2 separate regions of the Homo sapiens genome follow, and region 1 is linked to region 2. Evidence: fine-mapped expression QTL. Tissue or cell type: whole blood. Region 2 holds a variant in brackets; the other region holds the start of a gene. All regions are shown on one strand. Distances are from middle to middle. Region 1 holds the start of ABCF3 (ATP binding cassette subfamily F member 3). Region 2 holds the start of DVL3 (dishevelled segment polarity protein 3).

Region 1 (9,126 bases), 29 kb after region 2:
AAAGTTGGAGGGGGCCCAGGGCAGGATCCTGGGCCTGCCTGCCTGACTCCGCTGCTCCCCATTTATCTGTTCCATCACCAGGGCAGGTGCTGAGTGCCCATGTGTCGGGCCGGGTGGTGATGAAGAGCTACCTGAGTGGCATGCCTGAATGCAAGTTTGGGATGAATGACAAGATTGTTATTGAAAAGCAGGGCAAAGGCACAGCTGATGAAACAAGCAAGAGGTGCCTGAGGCAGGAGAGCTGGTGGGAGAGGGTGTCCCTTGGAGGGCTCAGTGGGGTCTAGTGAACCACAAGTTTCTTCTGGATTTCATTCCCACTGTAATTGCAAACTCTGTTCCTGACGGTAAGCCTGGCTGTTCGCTCTTGACATTAGTGCTACGAGAGATGAGGGGATCGTCCTCAGAGAGCAAGCCCCTTTGTTTGGTCCCTAGGACCAAGGCCTTTTCTGTACATACTGACAGCCTCTGCCCAGTGTGCCTGAAACACCCAGGTCCCTAGCAGAAGGAGCCCCAAGAGATGAGCTTGCAAGGCTTCCCTCTCATCCCAAGCTCTGGGGCAGACCTCCGAGTCACAAAGCTGCATTCTAGCAGCTTTTCATAGTCTCTGGTGCCAGCCTGGGGTGGAGTGGTCTCCCAGCATGACAGCTGTCATTCTCCTGTACCAATGAGACCTCTTCTGCCCCTGCTTGCAGCGGGAAGCAATCAATTGCCATTGATGACTGCACCTTCCACCAGTGTGTGCGACTCAGCAAGTTTGACTCTGAACGCAGCATCAGCTTTATCCCGCCAGATGGAGAGTTTGAGCTTATGAGGTGCCATTGGGGTGTGAGGAGGCAGCTAGTGCTGCTGGCAGACTGGGGAGAGGAAGTGGGTCAGCTCTTTGGTAACCTTGCTTCCCATCCCTTAAGGTATCGCACAACCAAGGACATCATCCTTCCCTTCCGGGTGATCCCGCTAGTGCGAGAAGTGGGACGCACCAAACTGGAGGTCAAGGTGGTCATCAAGTCCAACTTTAAACCCTCACTGCTGGCTCAGAAGATCGAGGTGAGGACAGGGGGCTCAAGGAGGAGGAAGAACTTGTCCCTAGGAATAAAGGTAGCTGATGTCACAGCTTGACAGAGCTCCCTGACAGGTGTGTCACTTCTAGGTGAGGATCCCAACCCCACTGAACACAAGCGGGGTGCAGGTGATCTGCATGAAGGGGAAGGCCAAGTACAAGGCCAGCGAGAATGCCATCGTGTGGAAGTGAGTCTTTCCTTCATTAGGCCACAGCAGGGCTCAAGATCCCAGTATACCCTCTTGTTTTCAGCTTTGATCCTTCTGAATGAGGGGCAGGGGAGTGTGCCTGTTTGCTTTTCTAGGAGCCTCTGCTTGTACTGTCAGTCTTTATACCTCCATGTGAGTATGTACACGCCTGCATTTGGGTTCATGCACGTGCTTATTTTTTAAGATGCTTTGGCATTTCCCTTTGTAATGTATACATTACAAAGGGAATACATTGCCTTTGTAATGTATCTGTGAAGCAGACAAAGCAAACGATAGCATGTCCAAGTGTCTAGGCAGAAACTGCATCCTGTTGTTCTAAAGAAGTAGACCCAAGTTTCCATAGCAAGTGGTTAGCAGGGTCCTGACCACTTCTCCTTGTTCTGGCACCTCCTGCAAGCTCCTGGGCTCTCTCCTTGCTTGAAATGGGCAACTGCCCTTGAAACTCCTCCAAGCCCCAATGGGCTGCCCATTGTCCCTGTGTTCCCAGGATCAAGCGCATGGCAGGCATGAAGGAATCGCAGATCAGCGCAGAGATTGAGCTTCTGCCTACCAACGACAAGAAGAAATGGGCTCGACCCCCCATTTCCATGAACTTTGAGGTATGGCAGAGGAGGGGCCTAGAGTCATGCCAGGGTATGCTGGAAGACCTCTTAGAGATCATTCCGATAAACTGCTGCACCTTAGAGGTGAGGAAACTGAGGCCTAGAAAGAAGAACTGGCTTTAATTCATAGATCCATTCTTCCCCTTTCAAGCCTCTTAGTAGAAATTACTATTTGTGATGAGGCAAATCTTTTACTTCTCTCGGCTTGTCCTAACACAGTTCTTTCAAAAAACTTAGATTGTTTAAATGCCAGGTAAGACACAAAGTTTACTTACAGACAGGATAATGGGCTGACTTTGCTTTGCGCATGTTAGACATAATTTTCTCCACCTTATTTTTAAGTTCATAATATTGAGCAGGATAAGTATGTTCTAAAGCAGTTCTTTGGTTGCTGTCTCCTGCTGATTAAAGGAACTGATTCAAGGTGTCACAGGTAGGGCTTTCTTCTTTAGTCACCTCTTAGAAGGTCCCACGCCGCCCCAGCTTCTTTCAGGACCCCAGCCATACAAACACCTGTAGTAGCGATGAAGTAGGGCAGGGCAACGGGACTTCCCAGAGGAGAGCGGCTGTAAGAGGAAGGCCACATTTCTAACTAGCTCTCCTTGCCCAGGTGCCATTCGCGCCCTCTGGCCTCAAGGTGCGCTACTTGAAGGTGTTTGAACCGAAGCTGAACTACAGCGACCATGATGTCATCAAATGGGTGCGCTACATTGGCCGCAGTGGCATTTATGAAACTCGCTGCTAGCTGCCACTAGGCAGCTAGCCCACCTCCCCAGCCACCCTCCTCCACAGGTCCAGGTGCCGCTCCCTCCCCCACCACACATCAGTGTCTCCTCCCTCCTGCTTTGCTGCCTTCCCTTTGCACCAGCCCGAGTCTAGGTCTGGGCCAAGCACATTACAAGTGGGACCGGTGGAGCAGCCCCTGGGCTCCCTGGGCAGGGGAGTTCTGAGGCTCCTGCTCTCCCATCCACCTGTCTGTCCTGGCCTAATGCCAGGCTCTGAGTTCTGTGACCAAAGCCAGGTGGGTTCCCTTTCCTTCCCACCCCTGTGGCCACAGCTCTGGAGTGGGAGGGTTGGTTGCCCCTCACCTCAGAGCTCCCCCAAAGGCCAGTAATGGATCCCCGGCCTCAGTCCCTACTCTGCTTTGGGATAGTGTGAGCTTCATTTTGTACACGTGTGACTTCGTCCAGTTACAAACCCAATAAACTCTGTAGAGTGGAGTTGCTGGCTTAGTGTTGATGTGGGAGCTACATGGGGAGGGAACTGGTGTTGCTCTCCGTGCAGTTTTCTGTACTGAATACTCTAAAGGCTCTTTCCTTGTCTTGTCCCAGTTAGGCCCCTCCTGGGCCATCCAAGCCCTTATCCTTGTGGGTTCTGGGCCCAGGTTTCCTGGCTCCTCTTAGAAAGCCTCAAGGGCATGCAGCCGCAGCGGGCCCCAGTACCCTGGGGATAGATTCTTTCCCTAGCTCCTTTTTATTCCCCCTGGTCCTCGGACTCCTAGGCTCAAGAGATCTTACCTGCCCCAGCCTCTGGAGTAGCTGGGATCACAAGCACGCACCACCACAGCACCCAGCTCTTTCTCTAATTCTTAGGCAGATGTTTTCTAATTAGATTAAGCATAAATTAAGTGTGAAGTTTACATTTGGTCTTGTAGCCATCCTAAGAAATTGACCTTTTAATTCCATCATTTACCCAAGCTTCCCAAATCTTGCTGACTGGGTGGTAGGAGGAAAGATTTGCAAGGAGAATAACATAATGGACTGGGCGCGGTGGCTCACACTGTAATCCCAGCACTCTGGGAGGCCGAGACGGGTGGATCACCCGAGGTCCGGAATTCGAGACCAGCCTGACCAACATGGGGAAACCTCGTCTCTACTAAAATTACAAAATTAGCCGGGCGTGGTGGTGCATGCCGGTAATCCCAGCTATTCGGGGGCTGAGGCAGGAGAATCGCTCGAACCCAGGAGGTGGAGGCTGCGGTGAGCCAAGATCACGCCACTGTACTCCAGCCTGGGCAACAAGAGCGAAACTCCTTCTCAAATTAAAAAAAAAAAAAAAAAGAATATAATGAATCTCCATGTCTCATCACCCAGCTTCAACTATGATCAATGCGTGGCCAGTTCCTTAATATCACATCCAGTTTGTGTTCACTTAACCAGGTGTCTTATCAAATTTTTCCAGATAAGGTCCATTGTGGTTGGTTAATGCTCCTCAAATTTTAAAAATTGATGTTTCCCTTCAGGTCTTGCAATTTTGTGGAAGAAACCAGAGTTCTGTAGTTTACCACATCAGAATTTGCCTGTTGTCCCCATGAAGTCACTTAACATATTCCTCTTTACCTGTATTTCCTGTAAAATGGTTCAATATCGGGATTGATGCCTCATGATGGCAATGTTTAATCCAAAGGGATGAATGGGTAATAATGTAATTTTCGGTGCCACTTTTAGAGACCAATTGGAGGAATATTCACGTTAAATATAAAGCAGTAGCATCATTTTGGAGGAAATTCCTAACTTCCCGAGGGAATCGGTGAAAGGAAATAGCCTTTTATTGGCATTTATTGAGTGCAGAGAAGTCTGCTCAGGGTGTAGGTAGGGAATAATTTATACAGGCCACGTTGTCCTGGTTTTCTTGCCCTTTGGCGGTGGATTTGGTCGTGCCCTGGGGTGGTGGAAGAACTGAATGGGCTTAATTCACAAAGGTCGGCTGAATTACACAGTGAAAAGGCGGTCGCGGCGGGGAGGCGGGTGGCGCTGGCCACCAGGCTGAGAAGCCCGTAGGGTCTGGGGACCCGCGAAAGCAAAGCACTGAGCAGGGGGCTTCTGAGAGTCAGGGACCGGGGTGAGTCAGCAAAGCTCTGGGCAGGCTCCAAAATGGGCCTGACTGGGTACGCACCAGCAGCAGACGCGCCTCGAGGGAGCGCATAAAACCTGGCAAAGCCAAAGTGCTTTATCAGCCGCCTGCCTCTTGGGAGGCTCCCACCCGCCAGACCACGGGTGCCTCGCGGCCCCGATAAACCTTGAGCTCCCAGCCTTTGCCCCACCCCTCGCTCCCGGAACTCCACCTCCCAGAAGGCAGCGAGAACCGCACATGTGGCTAATCTTTCAGCGGAAAAGGTGTCGCGCACGCGCAGAGAGCGCGGCTCCGGCGCAGACTCGGCGCCTCTCCTCAAGGCCCCGCTCGCCCCGCCCACCGGGCTCTGCGCACTCCGCTCCTTTCCTGCGTCACCGCTACACATGCGCCTTGCAAGGAAGGGCGAGATTTCGGGGGCAGGGCGGGGGGCGGGCCTAGGCCGGGGTCTCACAGCGACTGCGCGGACGGGTTCCTGAGTGGAACATGGCGACTTGCGCCGAAATCCTGCGGAGCGAGTTCCCCGAAATTGACGGACAAGTCTTCGACTACGTGACCGGTAAGCAGAACTGAATCGGCCGGCTGGGGAGACCGAAGTGGAGGCCGGGGGAAAGTCTAAGCGAGCGTCGTGCCCGGGACTGTTGCCAGGCCTCTCCTCTGCATGACCTCTTGTCCCGGGGGCTGGTTGGGTCTGGAGCCTGGACTGGGGCCTCTGTCTGGGGTCTGAAACTGCTTGTGTGTCCACCCTACCCGATACCTTCCTCGTTCTACCACGCCCTGCCCAGGCGTCTTGCACAGCGGCAGCGCGGACTTCGAGTCTGTGGATGACCTGGTGGAAGCTGTAGGGGAACTATTGCAAGAGGTGTCCGGGGACAGCAAGGATGACGCGGGCATCAGGGCCGTGTGCCAGCGCATGTACAACACTCTGCGTCTGTATGTGCCAGGGAGTAGGGGTTGATGGGGGCGAAGGGACGGCGAACGGTCCGGAGACAAGAGGTGGGGGAGGAAGATCTGATGGCCATAGAGCTTTTCCCTCAACTCCTAACTCTGCGCTTTCTATCCCTACCCACATAGGGCTGAGCCACAAAGCCAGGGAAATAGCCAGGTGCTACTGGACGCCCCTATCCAGTTGTCAAAGATAACGGAGAACTACGGTGAGAGTGAGGGGAGGTTGAACTAACTGCCCCCCTGTGCTTTTCTCCGCCCCCAACCATCTGCTGCCTGCAGCTTAGGGCTCCTACGTCTTTTCCACAGGACAAGGTTGTAGGAGCTAGTTGATGTCTTTACCGAGGGCAGAAGAGCCCATGATGGGGGTGGGGAGGAGGTTGGAGGGTTCTCCCTCCAAGCTCTTGGGTAGGATAGGAAGCATAAGAGCCTGGAGCTGGACAGACTTGCTTTCACCCCCAGTTTTGCAACTTGCTAACCAGCTGCATGATCTTGTAAGAGTTGGTTATCTGTCCCCAGCCTTGTCTATGCCTCTGTATCCTTCTACGTGAGTTTTGTTTTGTTTTGTTTTGTTTTGTTTTTAGTGCAGGGAAGATAATAGCCATCTATCTGCAGTATTATAAGGTTTTGTAGAAAACATCTGTGTCTGTGCCTGGTTCCTATTAGTCACTCAAAATGTTAGTTTCCCTTCCCTCAGGGAGAAGGTGACTGCTTTTCTTATCGCTTACAGACTGTGGAACCAAACTTCCAGGACTGCTAAAGAGGGAACAGTCCTCGGTGAGGAGGAGGAAGCAAGGGAGGGGACTGTCTGTGATGGGGTTGGGAGTTGACTGTCTAATTGGAGTATCTTTTGGGGGGATTTCTGACTATGTCTTTTCCTGAGCCTTTGAGTCTGTTCATCATGGGTAAGTTAAGAGGGTTTACTCGAGATGTTCTCTCTTGGGGTTCCTTTCTGAGCCTACACCCGAGAGTGAAGTCGATGTGTTTGGACCCTTAGACAGTGAATGCAAAGAAGTTAGAGAAGGCCGAGGCTCGACTTAAGGCAAAGCAGGAGAAGCGCTCAGAGAAGGACACGCTCAAGACCAGCAACCCTCTGTGAGTGGGGGAAGCATGGCTCAGAAGAGAGCAGAGCAGCTTTTGCCTGGACAGAAGGTGGTGGGGAGCACTAAGAGCTGTCCATTTCTCCCTTTAAAGAGTCTTAGAAGAGGCATCAGCCAGCCAGGCAGGCAGCAGAAAGGAGAGTCGGTTGGAATCATCTGGCAAGAACAAATCCTATGATGTGCGAATTGAGAACTTTGATGTGTCTTTTGGCGATAGGTGAGGGAATAGTGGTGGCAGGGGTTGGCTTTCTTTTTCTAATTAGAGGACAATTTGGAGAGGTGAAACGGGGCTATAAACAATGTTAGGTTTGTCATTAAACTTGCTGTGCACCTATTTCTAGAGCATCTTTGGTCTCCTTTCTCCACTCCTGCAGAGTACTGCTGGCTGGAGCGGATGTGAACCTGGCATGGGGCCGCCGTTACGGGCTGGTGGGGCGGAATGGGTTGGGGAAGACAACGTTACTGAAGATGCTGGCCACCCGGAGTCTGCGGGTTCCAGCCCACATTTCCCTGCTGCACGTTGAGCAAGAGGTTGCTGGAGATGACACTCCTGCCCTGCAGAGTGTGCTGGAGAGTGACAGTGTGCGAGAGGATTTGCTACGGAGGGAGCGGGAGCTCACTGCCCAGATTGCTGCTGGCAGGTGAGGACTCCCGGCTAGGGAGTAACTAGCAGCCGCTGTCGCTTACAGAGCGCCTGCCGTCCTGGAACAATCCATAATTTGCATGTACATCCTAGTAATCAGCAGAGCTTAGAACTTGGCACTCTGGGACTCAGAAGCCCTTGTTCTTTCCACAGTGCCCATTGCCCTTTCTTGTTCTTTCCACAGTGCCCATTTCCATAGTGCCCAAGGTAATGAGCACTGTGCAAACCCTTCCTGTATTCTCTTCCTCTTCCAGCCACAAGGTAGCCAATGGCCTTTCCAACGGTATAGGGTGCAGGACATCCTCCTAGACTGCCCCTGCTTAGGCCAATTGCTGTTTCTCCTCCCTCCAGGGCGGAGGGCTCTGAAGCTGCAGAGCTGGCAGAAATCTATGCCAAACTGGAGGAGATTGAGGCTGACAAGGCACCTGCCAGGTATTTAAAGCTCCCCCTCCCTCCTTCAGATTTCCTTTCCCTTCTGTGGACTGTTCCAACTGAGTTCTTCGATTTCTTCTCTACTAGGGCATCAGTCATTCTCGCTGGGCTTGGCTTTACCCCTAAAATGCAGCAGCAGCCCACCCGGTGAGTGACCCTTGCCATTCTTGGCTTTGAACCCTGTTGTCTCAGCCCCTTCCTGCCCTGATGAACACCCACCCATAATGTGACTCCATCATTCTTTAGGGAGTTCTCAGGTGGCTGGAGGATGAGGCTGGCCCTGGCCCGGGCCCTCTTTGCTAGGTGAGTCTCCTGGGCCAGTGTATGAAGCCCTATGGAAGATTGGTCTTAGCTCTTGGGAGGTGGCATGAGTTGCTGACCTAAAACCTCAGGCCATGTATTGTTTTTCATAGGCCAGATCTTCTGCTGTTAGATGGTGAGTTTGAAATGGGGCACCCTGACTTTAGGATGGGCAGGGGTGGTAGCATCCAAGTTCCTAGTTCTCCAGCCCTTCAATCCCAAGTGTGTGCTCCCCTGCTTCTCCAGAACCTACAAACATGCTGGATGTCAGGGCCATCCTGTGGCTGGAGAATTACCTGCAGGTGAGTGCCTGTGGGTGCTGGAGTGTGTTGGGGAAAGGCGGCCTCCAAGATACCTGGGGGCCTGAGAACTGACTGCCCTCCCAAACCGGGCCTGCTGTCCTGTGACCCCTCAGACGTGGCCCTCCACCATCCTAGTCGTCTCCCACGACCGCAACTTCTTGAATGCCATCGCCACAGACATCATCCACCTGCACAGCCAGCGGCTAGATGGTTACCGGGGAGACTTTGAGACCTTCATCAAGAGTAAGCAGGAGCGGCTGCTCAACCAGCAGCGTGAATATGAGGCGCAGCAGCAGTATCGCCAGCACATCCAGGTGTGGGGCCTGGCAGGGCTGGGGGTCCCATCCCAGGGGTTCCAGAGTGGGGGATAGTGGGGGAATTTGACCAATGCCTACACTCCTCCACCTGCAGGTTTTCATTGACCGGTTTCGCTACAATGCCAACAGGGCCTCTCAAGTGCAGAGTAAACTCAAGATGCTGGAGAAGCTGTGAGTACAGCATCCTTGGCCAGGGCCTGACTCCTGTTCTCTTCGTCTCCTTCCGCATTTGCACGCCACCCTTGCCCTACCATTCTAGGTCTCCCCTTCGCTAGAAGCCAACTGTGACTTCCTCCTCTGCTGGGAAGCAGAGTATTCCACACTGTTCTTGGAGGGCTAATCTTGACTAGCACATGGCAACCACTAATT
Region 2 (9,361 bases):
AGGCTGAGGCAGGAGAATCACTTGAACCTGGGAGGCAGAGGTTGCAGTGAGCCGGAATCTCGCCACTGCACTCCAGCCTGGGCGACAGAGTGAGACTCCATCTAAAAAAAAAAAAAAAAAAAGATGGAAGCCTCCAGGGAAAAATTGAACTGATGGATTATCTAATAGCTTTGACTGAATGAACAAAATGTGTATTGAGAAACTATTAGATTACATGGGAAAAACTAATGATAGGTATAATATATTAAAACAAATGAAAACACAAGGCAATGATTAAAGTCAGAGGAAACAAAAAAGTTGTAAAGGAAACGATTATAAAACACACATGAGGCCAGCGCGGTGGCTCATGCCTGTAATCACAGCACTTTGGGAGGCCAAGGCAGGTGGATCACGAGGTCAAGAGATTGAGACCATCCTGGCCAACATGGTAAAACCCTGTCTCTACTAAAAATACAAAAATGAGTTGGGCAGGTATGGTGGCACATGCCTGTAATCCCAGCTACTCGGAGGCTGAGGCAGAATTATCGCTTGAACCCGGGAGGTGGAGGTTGCAATGAGCTGAGATCACATCACTGCACTCCAGCCTGGCGACAGAGTGAGACTCCATCAAAAACAAAAACAAAAACAAAACAAAAAAAACTCCACATGACTTAGCGGTGAACATTTGCTCATAGTCAAAATAAGGTCACTACTAAGTACTATATTGACTTAGCCAAAAAGTGTGCTTTCACTATTTTAAGAGGGAAGGGTAAGGTGGAAGACAGAGAATCATCAATCAAATTTGGAAATCAATAAGCAATGTCTAAAATGTATAAATCAAGAACAAGTATTATGAGCTAAAAAAAAGTACTAAGAGTGGTAGGGAAATAGGACAAAGAATTGCTCGGGTTTTTTGTTTTGTTTTTCTCACCACTATACCAATAAGGAGGACTGCTGTTTTGTTAAAAAGCTTTTTAAGGGCCAGGCACGGTGGCTCACACCTGTAATCCCAGCACTTTGGGAGGCCGAGGCAGGCAGATCACGAGATCAGGAGATCGAGACCATCCTGGCTAACACGGTGAAACCCCATCTCTACTACAAATGTAAAAAATTAGCCAGGTGTGGTGGCAGGCACCTGTAGTCCCAGCTACTCGGGAGGCTGAGGCAGGAGAATGGCATGAACCCGGGAGGCGGAGTTCACAGTGAGCCAAGATCGTGCCACTGCACTCCAGCCTGGGCGACAGAGCAACACTCCATCTCAAAAAAAAAAAAAAAAAAAAAAAAAAAAAAAAAAAGCCGGGCGTGGTGGCTTGCGCCTGTAGTCCCAGCACTTTGGGAGGCCGAGGCAGGTGGATCACGAGTTCAGATCAAGACCATCCTGTTTAACACAGTGAAACCCCGTCTCTACTAAAAAAAACACAAAAAATTTGGCGGGCGCCTGTGGTCCCAGCTGCTCGGGAGGCTGGCGTGAACTCAAGAGGCGGAGCTTGCAGTGAGCCGAGATTGTGCCACTGCACTCCACCCTGGGCGACAGAGTGAGACTCCATCTCAAAAAAAAAAAAAAAAAAAAAAAAAAAAAGCTGTTTAAATACTATTTGACTTCCAAACATATTACTTTGATAAAAAATGTAAAGAAGGTGAAGGAAAGGGTATGAAGTGACGATATACATAAGGTGTGTGCAGGGGCTAGCAAGTGGGTTCATTTTCCTGGAGTCAAAAATTTGGCCAGGATATGAGACAAAAGGCTGTAAAAGTAGGTAGAGGTTAGATTATGGGGGGCCTTGAATAGGGATATTTGGGGGCTTTGGGGAATGTGGAAAGGTTTCTGAGTAGAAGAGGTATCTGAATGATGTTGTTATTCTAGTGTTAATTTGGCAACAGTGTATAAAATGGAGTAGAAGGAGCCCATACTTAAGACCATAGCATCCAAGGCCCTATGTAATCTGGCGGGTCTATGTTTCCAGCCTCACCTAGGACTGTTCCTTTAGTCATGATGGCCTTCTTATTCCTCAAATGTAACATGTTTATTCCTGCCTTGAGCCTGTATATTGGCTGTGCCCTCTGCCTAGAAGGCTGTCACCCCAGATCTTCTCATAGCCACTTCATCCTTGCTATTTCTAGGTCTTTTTTTCTGGAAGAAGTTTTCTCTAACCAATCAGAAACCTCTTTCTCGTTTTGTTTTGGTTGTTTTGTTTTTGTTTTTGTTTGAGGCGGAGTCTCGCTCTGTCGCCCAGGCTGGAGTGCAGTGGTGGGATCTCGGCTCACTGCAAGCTCCACCTCCCGGGTTCAAGCGATTCTCCTGCCTCAGCCTCCCGAGTAGCTGGGACTACAGGCATGCGCCACCATGTCCAGCTAATTTTTGTATTTTTACTAGAGACGGGGTTTCACCATTTTGGCCAGGCTGGTCTCGAACTCCTAACCTCAGGTGATCCACCTGCCTCAGCCTCCCAAAATGTTGGAATTACAGGCATGAGCCATTGCGCCTGGCTTCCCCTGTCACTATCCCATCACTTTGTTTTACCTTCTTCATAGCAGTGGTCACTCTGAAGTTATGTATTTACAAGCCTATGTGCTTCCCTCCAGCTGAGGGAAGGTCCTGAGAGCAGCCTTGTCTGTCTCGCTATCGCTATATCTCATGCGATATGCCTTATACACAGTAGGCCTTCAGTATTTATTAAATGAATTAAAAGTTAAGGGGTGAGGAGATCTGTGAGGAACCGGCTATACCTAGTTCTGGAGTTCTGGTTTGAGACTTACTGTCTTAGGCATGCATGCATCCACTTATCTTTTTTTTTGGGGGGGGGCGAGGGGGGATGGAGTTTCACTTTTGTTGCCCAGGCTGGAGTGCAAAGGCAGGATCTCGACTCACCGATCTCGGCTCACCGCAACCTCCGCCGCCCGTGTTCAAGCGATTCTTCTGCCTCAGCCTCCCGAGTAGCTGAGATTACATGCATGCGCCACCACGCCCGGCTAATTTTTTTGTATTTTTAGTAGAGACAGGGTTTCTCCATGTTGGTCAGGCTGGTCTTGAACTCTCGACCTCGGGCGATCCGCCCGCCTTGGCCTCCCAAAGTGCTGGGATTAGAAGCGTGAGCCACCGCGCCCGGGCCCCACTTATTCCGCATTCAACCCATTTATTAAACCACTACCTTGCAACTGGACGCTAAGGTTATAGGGAGGAATCAGAACTGGATGCTGTCCTTCTCTCGAGATCAGTTTAGTAGACTCAGTGACAGCAGTTGTGCTTCTCAAGAAACACTGAAGGGCCATGTTGAGGTCATTCTCCTCCAGGGATCCAGAGTCAGACCCACCCTCTTTCCCCAGACCATTTCTGGGGACCAAAGCAATCCCTGCATTCCACTCTTCCTGGACTGCAGAGGAGTCGCCGATCCCACTTGGGTCCGGAGTCAGGGCCTTCAGGGGTCCGGGAACGCCGCCATCCCGGTGAATCTCCCCTTCCGTTTCTAGGGACCCGGGACCGGAGCGCCGCGGCCCGGCCAGTGGGCGGGAAACCCTGCCATCTGCCGCGACGCCGGCGCCTCTCCGCGGCGGCCGGGGGCGGGGCGCGCCGGGGCGGGGCCGCGCCGGGCCGGAGGAGGGGAGCGGGCCCGGACGAAGCCCTGGGCCGGGAGGGCCGCGGCCACCGGAAGAGTCGCGGTCGCCAGTCCAGTCGGGAGAGTGGGGAGCGGAAGCGGCGGCCGCGGCGGCGGCGGGCGGCGCTGGGACCCGGTAGCGGCCGGAGAACAAGGGAGCTGGCGCCGCCAGCAGCCGCCGAGCTGGGTTGAGCCGCTGGGCCGCGCCGCGCGCCGCCGCCGTCTGGGAGGCTCGGCCCGGCCGCCCGAGCAGGCCGCGCGCGGGCCGCCGGGCCCGAGGCCAGAGCCATGGGCGAGACCAAGATCATCTACCACTTGGATGGGCAGGAGACGCCGTACCTTGTGAAGCTGCCCCTGCCCGCCGAGCGCGTCACCTTGGCGGACTTTAAGGGCGTTTTGCAGCGACCCAGCTATAAGTTCTTCTTCAAGTCTATGGACGACGATTTCGGGTGAGGATGGCCCCCGCCCCGCCTCCGGGAGCCCCGGCCGCTCTGGCTTCTAAGGGATGACGCGGTCCGTTTCGACTTGCCTCGCTACACCGGCTCCTAGCCCCGCTCTGACTTCTAGGGGCGACTCGGCCCATTTGGGCCCCTTTGGTTCCAGCCCCAGTAGCAACTCCCGTTTACCTCTGAAGAGGGGACGTTGGCCTCCCTTGTTTAAGGGGACGTCCAATTCCCCACTAGCAATCAGAGTTCCTGCCGGTGCGGTCCCCTTACCTCTTCAGAGACCAGTGGCCCACAGAGACAGACACACCCCCCCTCCACCTAGTTTCAGAGCCCGAGTCCCCCATCCTCCTCCTGCCGAGGAGCCAGAGCCACCTTTTTCCGCACAGACTTGGGTCGTGTGGCCCTCGTTCTTCGCCCCCTTCATCTTTTCAGCAGCACAGCTCCCAGCCATATTTGGAGTATGCTGCATCTGAGGGCTCTGCTGGGACTTTGAGCTGGGGGAGGGGTGTCGGGGGTGCTCGGGCGCCTGGCCGCGAGCGGGGTCTGCAGATCTGATGTTTATCTAGCTGCCTGCCCTCTCCTTTGTGGGCTGTTGTGGGTGTTGTCACCGGAACAGAGAGCCTGACCCCTGCGGAGTAGTCCTCACTGACCCAGGTGCTGATCTTTCCTCCAATTCGGGCTTTTTTCCTCCAGTTGGTGGCCAGTGGAGAGACGTTAGGAAGGGCCTGGGGCCTGGGTGGGATAGCCAGGAAGAGTTTCTTGGTGTTCTCTATCTTCCCCTCCCTGGTGGGGTCTTCCCTTCCACCCAGCTGCAGAGATCTGGACAGGCACAGTTTGGAAGCAGTCACTTTCCCTTTAAGAGGGGATGGAATGTTGGAGCCGGAAGGTTCTGAAGCAGCTGGCCTGGGAAGAGGGGGGCCTGGCTGATCCCCCTCGAACCCCCCCAACTCCCAGGAGACTGGGGGAGGGGGAGGCGCCCACACTTGCCTGCCGCCTCACTAACTGGGCGCTGGGCCTGGAGGCGGTGGGGAAGGCCCCTCCAGGCCTGAAGGCTGCCTCTCCAGCCCTAGCCTGAGGCCTGCACTGCTCTTTGGAGCTGAGGCCCCACAGCCAAGAGGAGACATTCTTCTCCCCAGTGTTCATCTGTCTGGCTTCTCTCCCAAGCCCCTGGCCCACCTAGCACTAGGAAGCAAGCACCTTCTGTCTAATGCCTGGCATGTTTTGCTGTCACCTTCTGCCCTGGAACTCAGGGTTGGATGAGCCCCTGAAATCATGTGTGTGAGAGTGCTTTGTACAGTGGGCAGTGCTTTGTAGATTCTAACTATTCTTGTTTCTGTTGTTGTTCCTGCCCTGGGGTGGGGTGCTCCTGGTGTGATAATGATTGTCTGCCTTCAGCCCAGAGACAGACACCTCTAATTGGAAGATTCTGAGGAGGGATGGATCTAGAAGGGGTCTGGGTGAGGGGGTGGATACTTTGGCCTGGCAAGAGAAGAATAGGGTTAGAAGGGATCAAGCTACTGCCTCCACATAAGGAATGGGGGAAGATGAGCCAGAGTCCAGTGCCCTGGGGCCACCTCAGATCCAGATGCCTTGAGGGACTAAGATAGGCTGTCTCTCCACCCTGTACTTATCTCCAGACCCACTGGACCTGGCCCCTGCCTCCTAAGCCTGGACAACTCTGGGCTGCTCTCCCAATCCCAAGGCCTAACTGCAGTTTTAAGAGGGCCCCCATTACATCCAGTCACTGTTACTTAATATTTTTCTTTAAATCCATTGTCAGTCCACTTACTGTTTTTCTTAGCTTGAACCAAGCAATAATATGAAACCATAGGTCTGA[C/T]TTTTCTGTTTATATTTCTTTCTAAAATATGTTTAACATAAATATTTAATGATTGAACTAAGCAATGTTAATCTGTGTGCCACCTGAAGCCATCTTGCAAACATCAGTGGTACTTGAACCAAAATCAGAGTTGGACCATTTTAGCAGGGTTGAAAACAGTATTAAAAATGAAGTGGAGGAGATGGATTCTGTTTGTATCCCCAGAAGGATAAATGAGCAGGGGAACTGATAGAGCTGTCTTGTCACAGAGGACTAATAGCTGAAGAGCATATATATATGTTTCATTTATTTAACACACGCCTTTTATGCTTAGTGTGCCAGGGACTAATCTAAATGCTTTTCAAATCTTCACTCATTTAATCTTCGAAACAGCCTTATGAAATAGATAGCGTAATAGTATCTCTAGTTTACAAATGAAACTCTGTCAGGCATGGTGGCTCACACCTGTAATCTCAGCAATTTGGGAGGCTGAGGTGGGAGGATTGCTTGAGGCCAGGAATCTGAGACCAGCCTTGGCAACATAGCAAGACCCCATCTCTACAAAAAAATTTTTTAATTAGCCAGGCATGATGCTTTGTGCCTGTAGTCCCAACTTGGGAGGCTGAGACAGGAGGATCACTTGAGCATAGGAGTTTGGGGCTGCAGTGAGCTGTGATGGTGCCACTGTACTCCAGCCTGGAAAATAGAGTGGGACCGTGTTTCAGAAAAAAAAAAAAAAGGAAACTAGAGCACAGAAAGCTTAAGTAACTTGCCTAAGGTCACACAGCTAATAAGAGGCAGAGCAGAGCTTGCTTTGACATCAGGAATCTGGATCCAAAAATCTAAATCCTTAATCGCACAATTTTAGGTGTCATTATTATCACCATTTTACTGATGAATCCTCTCCGAGGGAGGTGGTAAGCCTTGGAAAACTGTAGAGGTGACAAGGCCACCATTTCTCCGAGCCCCACAAGAGGAAGGTCAGGCGGAGGTCAGTGACCCTAGAGGAAGGAAAGTGGGTCAGAGGAGGAAGGCTGCTGTCTCTCCAGTTTCTCCACTCCTGGCTCAGCCTTTGAGGTGCTAGTTGTGAGGCTCCTCAAGTCCCATCTGGTCTACAAAAGTATTTGTCAAGCTCAGGGTAGGCCCAGCCATCTTTTTAAATTTTTTTTCTTTTTTTTTTTTTTTTGAGGAGTTTTGCTCTCGTCACCCAGGCTGGAGTGCAGTGGCGCAATCTCGGCTCACTGCAACCTTCGCCTCCCGGGTTCAGGTGATTCTCCTGCCTCAGCCTCCCAAGTAGCTGGGATTACAGGCATGAGCCACCATGCCTGGCTAATTTTAGTATTTTTGGTAGAGATGGGGTTTCACCACGTTGGCCAGGCTGGTCTGGAACTCCTGACCTCAAGCAATCCACCCACCTCGGCCTCCCCAAGTGCTGGGATTACAGGTGATGAGCCACCGCGCCTGGCCTGCCATCTTAAGTTATTTGAGAAATGGAGGAAGGATAAACATTTTCAGCATTGAGGGCATGGTGGATGGTTCATAGAAGTAAGGTGCCTACTGCTAGTCTGGCCTTGAGCTGTGAGAGAGGGCAGCATGGCGATCAGGTCATTAGCTGTGTGGCTTCCTGCTCCACTGTCCTCCCTCTGGGCCTTCCACCTGCAGACTCTTCTTCCCCTGTCTCCTCCAGGTTCAAATTCTCCTGTCTTCTGGGTTGAGCTTTTCTGTGAGAACTGTCATGGCACTCTCTTATTTTATCCTTTTTTTTTTTTTTTGAGATGGAGCCTGGCTTTGTCACCCAGGCTGGGGTACAGTGGTGCGACCTTGGCTCACTGCAACCTCTGCCTCCCGGGTTCAAACGATTCTCCTGCTTCAGCCTCACAAATAGCTGGGACTACTGGTGTGTGCCACCACACCTGGCTAATTTTTGTATTTTAAATAGAGATGGGGTTTTGCTACGTTAGCCAAGCTAGTCACGAACTCTTGACCTCAAGTGATCCGCCCACCTTGGCCTCCCAAAGTGCTGGGATTACAGGTGTGAGCCACCGTGCCTGGTATATTTTATCTTTATATCCTGACACCTGTGTAACACTCAGCAGATGTCTATCCATTGAACACATGTGCTGCTCCTACGGCTCCAACCACTTCCTGGATTGCAGTATATTTCCATGAACTATCCACTGGACCATAGTCTCTCTGAGAACAAGGCAGGCTCTGGGTCTGATGTTTCATGAGAAAACCTACAATAGCAAGCTCAGGACCTGAAACCCACTGGGCCCTCAGCCAAAGCATTTTATTTTATTTTATTTTTATTTTTTTATTTTTTATTTTTATTTTATTGTATGTTTTTTGAGAGGGAGTCTCGCTGTGTCGCCCAGGCTGGAGTGCAGTGGCACGATCTTGGTTCACTGCAAGCTCCGCCTCCTGGGTTCACGCCATTCTCCTCCCTCAGCCTCCCGAGTAGCTGGGACTACAGGTGCCCGCCACCACGCCCTGCTAATTTTTTTTTTTTTTTTTTGGTATTTTTAGTAGAGACGGGGTTTCACCGTATTAGCCAGGATGGTCTTGATCTCCTGACTCATGATCCGCTCACCTTGGCCTCCCAAAGTGCTGGGATTACAGGCCTGAGCCACCGTGCCCTGCCAGTCAAAGCATTTTAATTGGATGAACAATGAATGATGAACAGGTTTATTTGCTTTGCCCTTAATAATGTATACGTAGTTAGAAATAGTGTATGGATCCTGCTAAAAATGGACAATATAATTAGCTTTTACTGTATGCCTGGATCATGCCAGGCATTTAAGGATCCCTTTTACCAGGATGAGACAAAGGCTTGGAGAAATTAAGAAACTTCTCTAAGATAAGAGGGCCAGTAAGTGGTAGAATTGGAATTTGAGTCATTATTTGTTTGACTCCATTTGGGGTATGAGTGTGTGTGTGTGTGTGTAAGTGCTATGTAAACCCCAGCCATTCAGCTCCATGGTGGGAGAGTAAGACCTGTCTGAGGTTCCCCAAAGCTGCTGAAGATCAGCTGATTGTTTTGAGTCAGCAGAGCCTTGGTGGCCTGTCGATGACCCCCAGAAAGAGAGGAAACGTGTAGTGTGGAGCAGTGTGGTGGGGCCTGCCAGGGGAGCAGGGAGGTAGGGACTCAGCAGCAATTTCCCCCAGACAGGCAGACCCTATCCAAAGCAGGCTGTGCCATGTGGCCCACATATTCCCTTTTCCTTTGAGCCCTGTGGGGCTGCCAACCTGGAGTACCCTGTGGCCAGAGTGGCTGGTGGGTCTGAGCTACCTCTGTGTCCCTTCTTTCTAGCCTGTCCTTTCTACACTTTCTGCCATGGTGGGCCGCAGTAGGATGATTTGGGCTGCTTTCCGAGGGTCGCTGTGGCTCTGGGAATGATAGAGGAGCCAGAGCTGGATGGGAGTGGGGAGGGCAGGCTTGGCCTGTGAACTTGGCTGTGAGTCCAAAAATGTGAGCATCACAAGGGAGCCAAGCACATTCCCAGCTCTGGGCAGAAGCTGCTCTAAGA

The links. PIP is the estimated chance that this variant, and not a neighbour inherited with it, causes the effect. A credible set is the group of variants that fine-mapping cannot tell apart.
Region 1: ABCF3 starts here. The variant in region 2 is the best candidate, but not a certain one, in a credible set for the expression of ABCF3 in whole blood (INTERVAL, PIP 0.82).

The regions. Positions count from the first base shown.
Region 1 is chr3:184,181,004-184,190,129 of GRCh38, forward strand. It overlaps ABCF3 (ATP binding cassette subfamily F member 3), which reads left to right and starts at 5,196. Exons shown (of 21, transcript NM_018358.3): 1 at 5,196-5,277; 2 at 5,504-5,651; 3 at 5,793-5,872; 4 at 6,394-6,440; 5 at 6,661-6,758; 6 at 6,858-6,980; 7 at 7,138-7,404; 8 at 7,758-7,838; 9 at 7,926-7,985; 10 at 8,085-8,141; 11 at 8,252-8,274; 12 at 8,385-8,440; 13 at 8,554-8,754; 14 at 8,852-8,928. The coding sequence starts at 5,205. AP2M1 (adaptor related protein complex 2 subunit mu 1) reads left to right here. Exons shown (of 12, transcript NM_004068.4): 7 at 82-223; 8 at 693-812; 9 at 909-1,044; 10 at 1,148-1,245; 11 at 1,754-1,865; 12 at 2,479-3,088. The coding sequence ends at 2,613. RefSeq lists enhancers at 2,181-2,695, 3,989-4,703, 5,181-5,500.
Region 2 is chr3:184,151,776-184,161,136 of GRCh38, forward strand. DVL3 (dishevelled segment polarity protein 3) reads left to right here and starts at 3,602. Exons shown (of 15, transcript NM_004423.4): 1 at 3,602-4,021. The coding sequence starts at 3,861. RefSeq lists a silencer at 3,499-3,848 and enhancers at 4,186-5,063, 5,064-5,939, 9,122-9,361. The variant C/T (reference allele first, on the strand shown) is at 5,856.